2 linked regions of the Homo sapiens genome follow. The protein of the gene in region 2 interacts with the protein of the main gene of each other region in a biochemical or structural test. Each region holds a gene or a part of one and is shown on either strand. Other genes may lie near its edges.

Region 1 (7,411 bases), on a different chromosome or scaffold from region 2:
GCATATAAATTATATCATGGAAAAGCTGTATAAATATTCTATTATGGCACATGCTGTTCTAAGGATCTGTCAGGATTTCCTTTATACACTCCATTTTGAGTGGTATATAAATCAGATGTAAAAATTCATGTTGGACTGAAATTCAGCACAAAATGCCTCCTCCAGAGGCAAATGCTTTTTTCAAAATGTGGTTCGAATTATGTTGGTCATTTTTAAGTTACAGAAGTGCAGAAAATGTATTTGTGGTTTTGAGGGAGAGAGATTTTTTCCATTTTTATAACTCATTAGGAAACTTTACAGGCCTTCAGACCATTTTGTGGTTTAGTTCTTCTCAGGTTTTTCCCCAAAGCAATATTAAAACTTGAATGGTGTCCGCTGTGAATCCAATGATTACTGTTCTGAATACAAATGTATGTGTGGATACATATAGTTCTACATATCTTCAACTAGGAGAAGTTCCAAAAATATTATGACCAAGGTAGAAGATGAGGCCTATCAGTTGGCTAGTCTTTGCCTTGGTATCAGTCAAGTTTGGCATATCAAAGGAATCAAAGGAATCCCCTATCCAAACCACAGTTCAGCAGGTATTGCTTGAATTTTAAAACTGCATTAAATTGCAGAAAAATCCGCTGAGTTCAACACTGCCTCTTTTATGAGCTTTTAGACAATAATGCTGCGCCTTTTCTAAATTTTGGTTTCTCTAACATATAGAGCAAGTTGCAGTGTGTTTAACAGATATTCACTAATGCTTATCTCATTTCTAAAGTATTTAATATGTATATATTATGCATATAAATTAGTTTGCTAAATAATGTTGAACTTATTTTGTTAGTGTAGCTAATGTGTTAGAGTAATTTCATAAACATCTAAATTATTATTTTAGCCTATGTAGAGATTATTATACTCTCTTTCCTAACAGCATCAGTTAAAATCAAAGAAAGTTTGATTTAGACCAAGAAAGTTGGCCTAATTCACAAAGTTGATTAAGCCAATATTTCAGATGACTTTAAAGGAAAATGAAAATAAACATAATATATATGTTTGAATTGCTTCCATCTATACTGCATTTAGTTTATTAATACATTGGAACAATGCATTTAGTAGTTATTATTTATCGTTTAAAGCACAATTTTTAAAAAAATTTCCCAATATCGTATCTTATGCTTTGTATTAAATTCCCCTTAGAGAATTAAATCTGGGTGTCTTGATTCCAAAACAGTTCCCTTTCCTATTTCCTATATTTCCTATTTCCTACATTACACTATTTCTGGTACAGTTACCAAAATCCTTGGGTTTAGGGACAGTTAAGATGGACCACTCAGAGGATGATCAAACATTTGCCTGTGGCTGGAGCAATGTAGACTTTCCCTCTGGGATACTGAGGAGCAGAAGGGGTCTCACTTCTCCTGAATGTTTTCTCTACTTACCTAGTGTCACAGAAATTAGCCAGCTATGTACTATCGAGACAGCTGAATGCCAGTTTTTCTTATTTTTCACATTAACAAGAGAGTAAGGTTACTAATGAGGGGTCACATCCCAAATCTCTAATCTATATAGCTGAATATCCCTATTTATATTTGGGTCATTTTTTGTTCTGCTCCATTGACTTTTACTAAATTATACTAATTTGTGTTCCATAATGTTATTCTTGGTTATAATTAATGAAATTTTGTGTGTAACTCATATATCACTGATATACTTATGTCTTTCTGTTAATCATTAAGGTCATTTCTTTTATAATTTAAATTAACATGTATCACTTCAAACATCCCTGTATAACTCAAAACAGTTATGAAGAAGTTCTTTGCAGCTTTTGGGAGAAGTTTACAAATTTCTGAGAACTAGATACATATTGAAATATAGTTTTATGTTAATCAAAACTGTTTCAAAGGAAAGCATAGACATTTAAAAACGACTGAAAATAAAAGTACTTTAAATGTCAAAGTAAATAATTTTATATGTGAATAATCTAGATTTCATGGTTTGAGCAGGAATAATTTATAACTCATTAGGCAAGTAATATACACAGTGCACTTCTCTCCCAACCTATTGCATTACAGCCATATTTTTTCTCACATTTGTAGAAAGGGTTACACAGTGCTATTATTTGAATAGCTTTGACCTTGTTAAAGCCTGGCACCATTGTTTTTTACATAGCAAGCAGTATATTTTTAAATAGAGTCACTTTCTTACAACACATGAAATAAAGAATGACATAAAAACTTTAAGATTGTGAATAATAAAATATGTAAGATATATCCTCACCTTGATTTTACCTTTAAGCAGCCTTTTATTTGTCTGTTAGGAACTTCTTTCCATGGTTTTACAGGCTCCGGCTCTTGTTCTTTCTTTTGACAAATGAATGTATAATTTGTGCCATTATTATTTGACCAAAATGTACCAACAGAAGTTTCATAACGTATACAAAACTCAACTTTACTGCCATCTTTTTGATAAGGAGGAACCAATACAATCTTAAAGGAGAACTGGTCAGTTTCACCATCACATGAATTAGGAACATATTCTGCTAAAATGTCATAATGTGTCTGCCAGTCATCTAAAGACATTCTTACATATACTAACTTCTCAAAAGAAACATTCAAAACTCGAATAATACCCTTGATACTTGTAGACCCAAGAAGAGACTCAGTTGACTCCAGTATTGCTTTCTGTATTTGGAGTTGTTGCATAAGATCTTCTTTTGAAGAAGGCAAGTCAAACAGTGGGGCTAAAACATATTCTTCTGTGTGGAAAATGTCCGTCCCTAAGTCAAAAGTGGTTGAAGCACTCGGTAATTCCCAGCAATCAAATTCTTTAACAGACACAAGATTGAATCCAAAGGAATCAGCAAATGAAACTCTTCTAGTACCTGAAGATGGGGTATCCAGGTATATGTCTTCAGAAGAATCAGAACCTCGTCTACTTGGTTGAGGGGAGAAACCAGGTTGGAAAGTAACTTCTTCATCTTCACAAAGAGAGTCAGATAAATTAGGAACTTCTAAAAAATTATCTTTGCTAATCTGACTAGGTACTTCAGAAGGCTCCATTGGGCTCTCTGATATCAAATAAGAGAGAACTGTACGACTAGTAGAGGCTGACATTTGAGATACTGAGGCTTAAAATAGGTATAATGTTACAGTTGACATTGCAAAAAGAACTCAGCTCTATAAATAGGTCCAATGGCGTGTCAACTATGCTAGCCTGCAACCCTGCTAGCCTCCCCCTAAAGGCCTTGCATATGATAGCATCCATGCTACTCCCACCAGTATGTTTCAGATTTAACTGGCAGTTTTTAAAGCTGTATTTGTTTATGAGCTAAGTTCCAAACAGATATTTTTAAATCATGTTCTGCTGTATTGGAAATCCTGGAACTTTAGGATAAAAATATTATTTTAATTAGTTGATGTTAAAAATGAAAATGTGGATTTTTTTTAAATAAAATAAAAGTAGTATCACAATACTGAATATGTAGTTTGGACTAAATTAATCCATGGAGCAGGTAAGTGCAAACAGGGAAAGATAAGAACATTTATAGAACTGAAGAGATCCAGAGCCTACTAATAATGACAGCTATCATTTTCAGGGATTTATAAATGTATAGCTTTATTACAAAAGGGTTAAATAGAGGTGCTGAAAGTTCTGAGGAAGGAAACATGATTCAGATGGGGAAGGTATCATTTTAAATAAAGCATGAAGGGTAGGTGGAATTTAGACATGCAAGGTTGGAGCAAGGCAGATTGTCCAGGTAGAAGAAATAACCCAAGCAAAAGCCTAGAACAAAGAAGTAATCAAATTCATTATTTTAAACATTAGTACATTTATTTTAATTAAGCCATGGGAAAATACAGATAAGACATGTTATTGATTTACAAATATAAGTGGGCAAAGGTAAGCCTGATCCAGGACTAATACATCTACGTAGAATAAAATGTTCTTTTGCAAATGGCCATTTTATGCCCACAAAGCAGAAGTTGATACCATCACACCTTGAAATTCAATATGAGTTTTAAAGTATGAACAGCCTGCTTAAACTGTCACGTTTTTTTTATGTCATAAAACCCAAGTTGGGGGATGGTCATTTTGGTAAAAACCTATAAAAATTTAACTGCACACAATTTGACCGAGAAATGCCCCAGCTAGAAATTTGCTCTGTCAGTATGGGAAAGTATACAAAGATAAATAGAGATCTATGTTCATAACAGAATTGTGCGTTTAACAGTCTCTACAAACCTGTTAAATGTCCCTCTCGAAAGAGCATTGGATAAATAACCCATACAATAGAATGTTTTAGAAGGATAAAGTAGCACTTTATGTGCTAATATGGAAAGATAACCAAGATAAATGGCTAAGTGATAAAAAAGAAAATGTGTACAGATATGTACATAGAAAACTCCTGAAAGGATACAAAAGACAATGTTAGCAGTATTTACTTCTAACCACAGAATTTAAAGATGGCAGAGGAATGGGGGCTCTATTCATTTTACTTTATGGTCTGCTGTACTGTTTGAAATATTATACATGAGCATGGTTTTCTTTCAAAATATCTATTAATTAAACTGAAAAAATATACGAAGTGTGAAAGGTGATTAGTTTTTCTTTTTATAAAGAGCCCAATAGCATAATTTCTTTCAAATGAAAACCTCATTAATATGGTATAACTTATTAGGTAATTTGAATTGCATAAAGTAGTGGATGGAGAAATTATTTTCTAAAATTATAAGTGACTAGTGTCTAGAAGGATAAAGAAATGAAATTATTTGAGCTTTATCTCATCCACATAGCTAGAATGGGTGGTGACCACATGGATTGCTCAAGAATGGGTAATGGCTGCGGAAATGTCTGTGCCTTTCAGATTTGATGACTACAAGTAGCTATATTTCAAGGTACCTGAAATACATTGCTATGTAGTCAAGGAAATCAGCAACAAAATGCTTTATGGAAATTAGTAAAATAGTTCATATAGCCATGTAAATAATGGGATAATGAAAATTTAAGATATAATAATGTACTGAAATATTTTAACTATCCAGGAGTTAGTTAGCAAAGGAATGGAAATGAAGACCCCTGGGTCCATTTCCTGGCTCTGCTGCTTACTAGCTGGATGACCTTCCGAATGTTACTCAGATGTTCTAACCCACAGTTGCCTTAATTGTCAAAGTACAATGTTTAAAATTAAACAAGATTCTTGTTAAATGTCTAGCACAAAACCTATAGTAATAGCACCAGTCACTATTTCAATTCCGATATATGTTTGTAAAAGGCTGATTTCTAAGGTATATCAACAGATAGATGGATAGATATGTAATCTATCTAGCTACAGAGAATTCATATATATCATTAAGAAATGATTTGTAATTTGTTTCATTTTTGTCTTTTTCAAAGGCTATAGTGTGTAACACTTAGCTTTATAAGACATAATATAGCTCTACATTAGAAAATGGTCCTGTTATTTGATCTAAACTTTTCCCTTGTTAATGTGTCTCTTTACACAGAGCACTACCTTGATTTGTAGTAATCACTGCCTTTCTTTTGGAATTTATAACCTTCACATAATTGTAGACAGTTGACATGTTCCCCCTTAGTCACCACTTAGCTAAAGCAGAGTGATTTCATCTTTTTAATCTCTTCCCACATGTCAATCCTCCAGTGCTTTTTACCATTTTGTTACTCCTCTATGAACTCCTTCCAGCTTGCCTGTATTTTTCTGTTAATGAGCTGCCCCCAGATGAATGCAATATTATAGATCAAGTGTCTCTGGAGCATGAAAAGAAATACTAACAGCCTCAGCCTTGTGACTTGGTGTTTGCATTCAGTTAAAATTCACATTTCCTTGCTTTATTTCCATATCACAGATCAGACCAATGTCCCATTTTCTCATATCCACCACTACCTCAATTTCAACACAATTTATCACACTCTTCTTCAGCTGCTAAGGTATACTGTTTTTAGAAGAATTAAAGCTTTTTCTTTCCTTCTTTTTTTTTTTTTTTTTTTTTTTTACAAACTAAAGCTCAAGTCTCCATGCATTCCATAATTTTTGGTATTAATCAAATATTCTCAAAGGCACCATTAACATAAAAAACAGTATCAGTCAGGAACCCAGTAAATAGGAAATAGATGGCATGCTCAAATAAGATAATTTCAGGAGGATTTATTTACAAGGGTCTATTTATAAAGTGTAAAGGCAGAGAAGCCACAAGAACTAGTGTGACAAACTGGGGTCAATTGCATCAGAGCTTTTACCATCCTTCAAGGGATAAGGGAAGGGAACACTTATCAGAACTTGAAAGCAAAGCGTGCCATAAAGAGCTTACCAACTGGAGACCTGGTCAAAGGACACAGCCAGTTGAAGACGACTTTGCCAGGAGTGATCCGGGAGCATAATAAACTGAATTCATTCTTCTCCCTTTTTATGATGTCCTACCAGAGCTACCTATTGGCCAGAGGGCATGGGAACTATTATAGTTCATTCAGGTCAGTCTCCCGCAGCAGAAAACAGGGAGGAAAATGGTGGAAAGGGTGGCAAGTGGATTTGGAGGAGCAAACAGAAGATATGAGGTATGAAATATATGCAAATATGTATATAACATATATACATATATAACTTAAAATACATATGTGTGTTCCTCTTTATTTATACATACTGTATCTCAATGCCAACTGAGTTTCTATTACCTGATCTTCTACTGTCATGGGTTCAAGAAAAAAAGTTAAATATCTAAGGTCTGATCAGCTCTGATCCAGTGAGAATCAAAAATAAGAGAGATTGTGTTTATCCACAAATGGGTAGGAAAGAAATGATCTATTTTGAAATTAATTATGATTTTGCATTTGTTTCCCATGTTAGCATAGATTTTTGCAACCCAAAGAAACGTTTTGTCAAGAGACAGTCTAGAACTGTAGTCTTTAAAACCAGAGATAGATGTCAAAAATCACTGGGAGAGATGTTCAAATAAGATTTTCCAAGAGGATGATGGTTCACAAGTGATTCTGATATATAGACTTGGTTAAGATGCGTGATCTCCGGCTGGGCGCAATGGCTCATGCCTGTAATCCCAGCACTTTGGGAGGCCAAGGCGGGTGGATCACAAGGTCAAGAGATCGAGACCATCCTGGCCAACATGGTGAAACCCCGTCTGTACCAAAAATACAAAAATTAGCTGGGCATGGTGGTGTGCACCTGTAGTCCCAGCTACTCGGGAGGCTGAGGCAGGAGAATTGCTTGAATCCAGGAGGCGGATGTTGCAGTGAGCCGAGATTGAGCCATTGCCCTCCAGCCTGGAGACAAAGTGAAACTAGGTGTCAAAAAAAAAAAAAAATGCATGATCTCCTAGTCTGTCTGCCATAGTCAGGGACTTAAGTTCTAGTTATGAAAACAATTGTAGCTATTATCCCTCTACATATGTACTAT
Region 2 (2,957 bases):
ATCAATATGGAAAGGTAGGACAACTCGAAGTGTGGGAGAGGACTTCCAGGGCACAGGTAGGTAAGAGACAAATGGTTGCATTCTTTTGAGTTTCTGATGAGCCCTTCCAAAGGAGGCAATCAGACAGGCCTTTATCTCAGTGAGCAGAGATAACTGAATAGAATGAATGGGAGGCAGGTTTGCACTAAGCAGTTTCCAGCTTGACTTTTCCCTTTAGCTTAGTGATTCTGGGGTCCCAAGATTTGCTTTCCTTTCACAGTTGTGACAAGGTTTTCAGAAATCCATTGTGGCAAAAAAGAAGCACCTGAACCTTTTTATTTGGGTAGAATAAAAACAGAAACAGTAACAGGATATTCAGATAATATGCTACAACCAGTTCCTTCCCTGTCCCTGACAAAGGTGCGCCAAGGGAAATTAAACCACAGGAAATGTTATTCATGTTAAAACAATCTATTCAGGACTCAAAACTACAAATCAAAGAAAATTTGAAAAACCTTTCCAATAAGTTTCAGTGAAAACATTCTTTATTAGTAAGCAGACATTTCAAACTTTTTGATTACATACATCATGCAAAATGACTGACCTCACAGATGGTTGTCTGTTCATTGTGACATCTTTTTTGAGATGATTATAAATTTAAGATGACTGCAGTAGTAAAAATAATTCATGAAAATGACTCTCAATGAAGCAAAACACTACATAGCACACATGAAATACTGTTCATCCCTCCTGGATGTTTAATTCTCTCCTAATGTAAATCTCTATCTTGGAAGACTATTATATACAAAAATGGCAGTTGTTTTTGTATGTGCATCTATAGGCACTCAACTGATAAAAACAAGAAAATTTCAAATAATTTTACAAGGATTGGTTATTTTTCCTGTTTTGTTAATCCAAAACAGGACAATGCCCTTTGATTTACAATGTTCAATTCTTTTAAGAAATCATTTTCTTCGGAAGATGATTTTGACCCATGAAAAAGTTGTTTTACCCCTGGTAATCTTTTTGAAATGGGGCTGGCTGTTACACATTATCCAAGTTGTTTTCAGTAAGTGAAAAGGAGTAGGGCTTATTTTGAGAATTCCTCTATATTACGGCACTGAGAAAACTTCTCTGCAGTGGTGGGCTCACCACTTTCATCCTGTGGTAGTTCTGGTAGCACTCCCAGTGTGAAAACCCTAGCACAGGTAAATTCACCTCTTTGAAATAAACAGTGACCCTGGAGAAAGGTGAATTCCAAATCTAGTACCATATTCAAGTCATCTGGCAGAGAAGCAGGCATAAAAGAGTTTTCTAGGTACTTGAGGTGCTGCTGTAACAAATACCTAAAAGTAGAAAAGTGGCTCTGGAATTGGGCAGTAGGTGGAGGCTGGAAGAATTCTGAGGAGCATGCCAGAAAAGAAGCTAAACTGCCTTAAACAGACTGTTAGTAGAAATATGGAATGTTAATGCTAGGGCGGCCTTGAAGAAAGGAGCATAATAGAGAATACCTCGATTGCCATAGAATATCTAAATCATCATGAATAGACTGTTGGTAAAAAATGAGGAATATGTTACTGGAGAAGTGGAGGAAAGGAGTCCTTGTTACATAGTGGCGAAAAGCTAAGCTGAGTTGTGTCCTGCCGTTATGTGTAAAGCAGAACTTTTAAGTGATGACTTCAATATTTAGCTGAGGATATTTCCAAGCAAGCTGTGGAAGGTACAGCCTGCTGTCTTCTTGCTGATTATAGTAAAATGTGGAAAGAGGTAGATTGAGGGAAGACCTGTTAAATATAAAGAAACCAGGACTTGATGATTTGGGAAATTCGCGGCCTATTCAAATGGCAAAAGCCACTAAAACTAAGATTCACCGTCAGGACAGCCTTTACTCTAGAGAAAGTGATGAAGATATGGCTGTATAACCTTTTGCTAATACTTCAGAAACATCAAAAGGTCTGAATATCAGGTCACACACAAGACTCTTTGAAGATATTAAGGGTGTGAATCATAGATCCTCTCAGCTATTTCAGAAAAAGCCAAAAACAGAGACAGGATTTTCCAGGAAAGATACGTGAGGAGCCTCCTATCTAAATGAGTGCATCCCTGTGACATATGTAAAAGACCCACAAGTTTCTTGACAACGTTATAGCAGCAGAAGCACCACCATTTTTAACAGAAAGCTTTAGAGAATATAAAAGAAGAACAAACTGATAAGTTGATACTCAGCTGCAAACGTGTGCTACCTTTTGTGAAAAAGTAAAGATGACTCTGAGACAGTCAACAAGCCCAGAGAACAGCAGTGAGCTGAAGATTACTCCCAGGCCTTGAAACTTAAAGAAGGGTGCCTCGCTGGTTTTGTAAATTGATTGGTGCTGATGGCTCCTTTTTCCATCTGTTTCTGCTTTTTGAACAGGAACGTGTGTAACTATTATTGTCTGCCTGTCATGCCATCATACTTGGGAACAGATAACTTGTTTTCTAGGTTCACAAGTGCACAGTTGGAATTATGTCCCAGAAATCACACACAGATCCTCTCCCAAACTTAATTTAGATGGCTTCAATGTGAGATTTGAGACTTTTGAGTTGGTGAGACTCAGATAAGATTTTGGATTTAGAGTTGATGCTGTAATAATGGATTGTGACTTTTGAGCACCTATGAGTGATGTAAATTTATTTGTGATGAATCTGAATCTTTAACACAGGAGTGGAGCGGGGGGTGGGTGGGAACTGTAGTAGGCAAGAATAATGTTCCATGTAAAATGTTAATGTCCTAATCTCCAAACCTGTATGTAACCTTAGATGGTAAAAGAGATTTTGCAGATGTAATTAAGGTTACTATGGATTTCAAGACAAGGAGATAAGCCTAGATTGGATATCCGGTGGGCCTCATTTAATCATGAGTCCTGCAGAGAACCTCTCCACACTGGTGTCAGAGAGATGTGGTAACAGAAGGGTCATAGAGATGAAACAGCACTGGT

Evidence for each region.
Region 1: the proteins of UBXN2B (region 2) and PPP1R3A form a complex in vitro, tested with the Homo sapiens proteins (one study listed by BioGRID).

What each region holds. Positions count from the first base shown.
Region 1 is NC_000007.14:113,915,950-113,923,360, forward strand, and holds the start of PPP1R3A (protein phosphatase 1 regulatory subunit 3A), read right to left. Parts: upstream 3,061-7,411; 5' UTR 3,048-3,060; coding exon 2,266-3,047; intron 1-2,265. UniProt on the Homo sapiens protein: Seems to act as a glycogen-targeting subunit for PP1. PP1 is essential for cell division, and participates in the regulation of glycogen metabolism, muscle contractility and protein synthesis.
Region 2 is NC_000008.11:58,449,047-58,452,003, reverse strand, and holds the end of UBXN2B (UBX domain-containing protein 2B), read right to left. Parts: 3' UTR 503-2,957; downstream 1-502. UniProt on the Homo sapiens protein: Adapter protein required for Golgi and endoplasmic reticulum biogenesis. Involved in Golgi and endoplasmic reticulum maintenance during interphase and in their reassembly at the end of mitosis.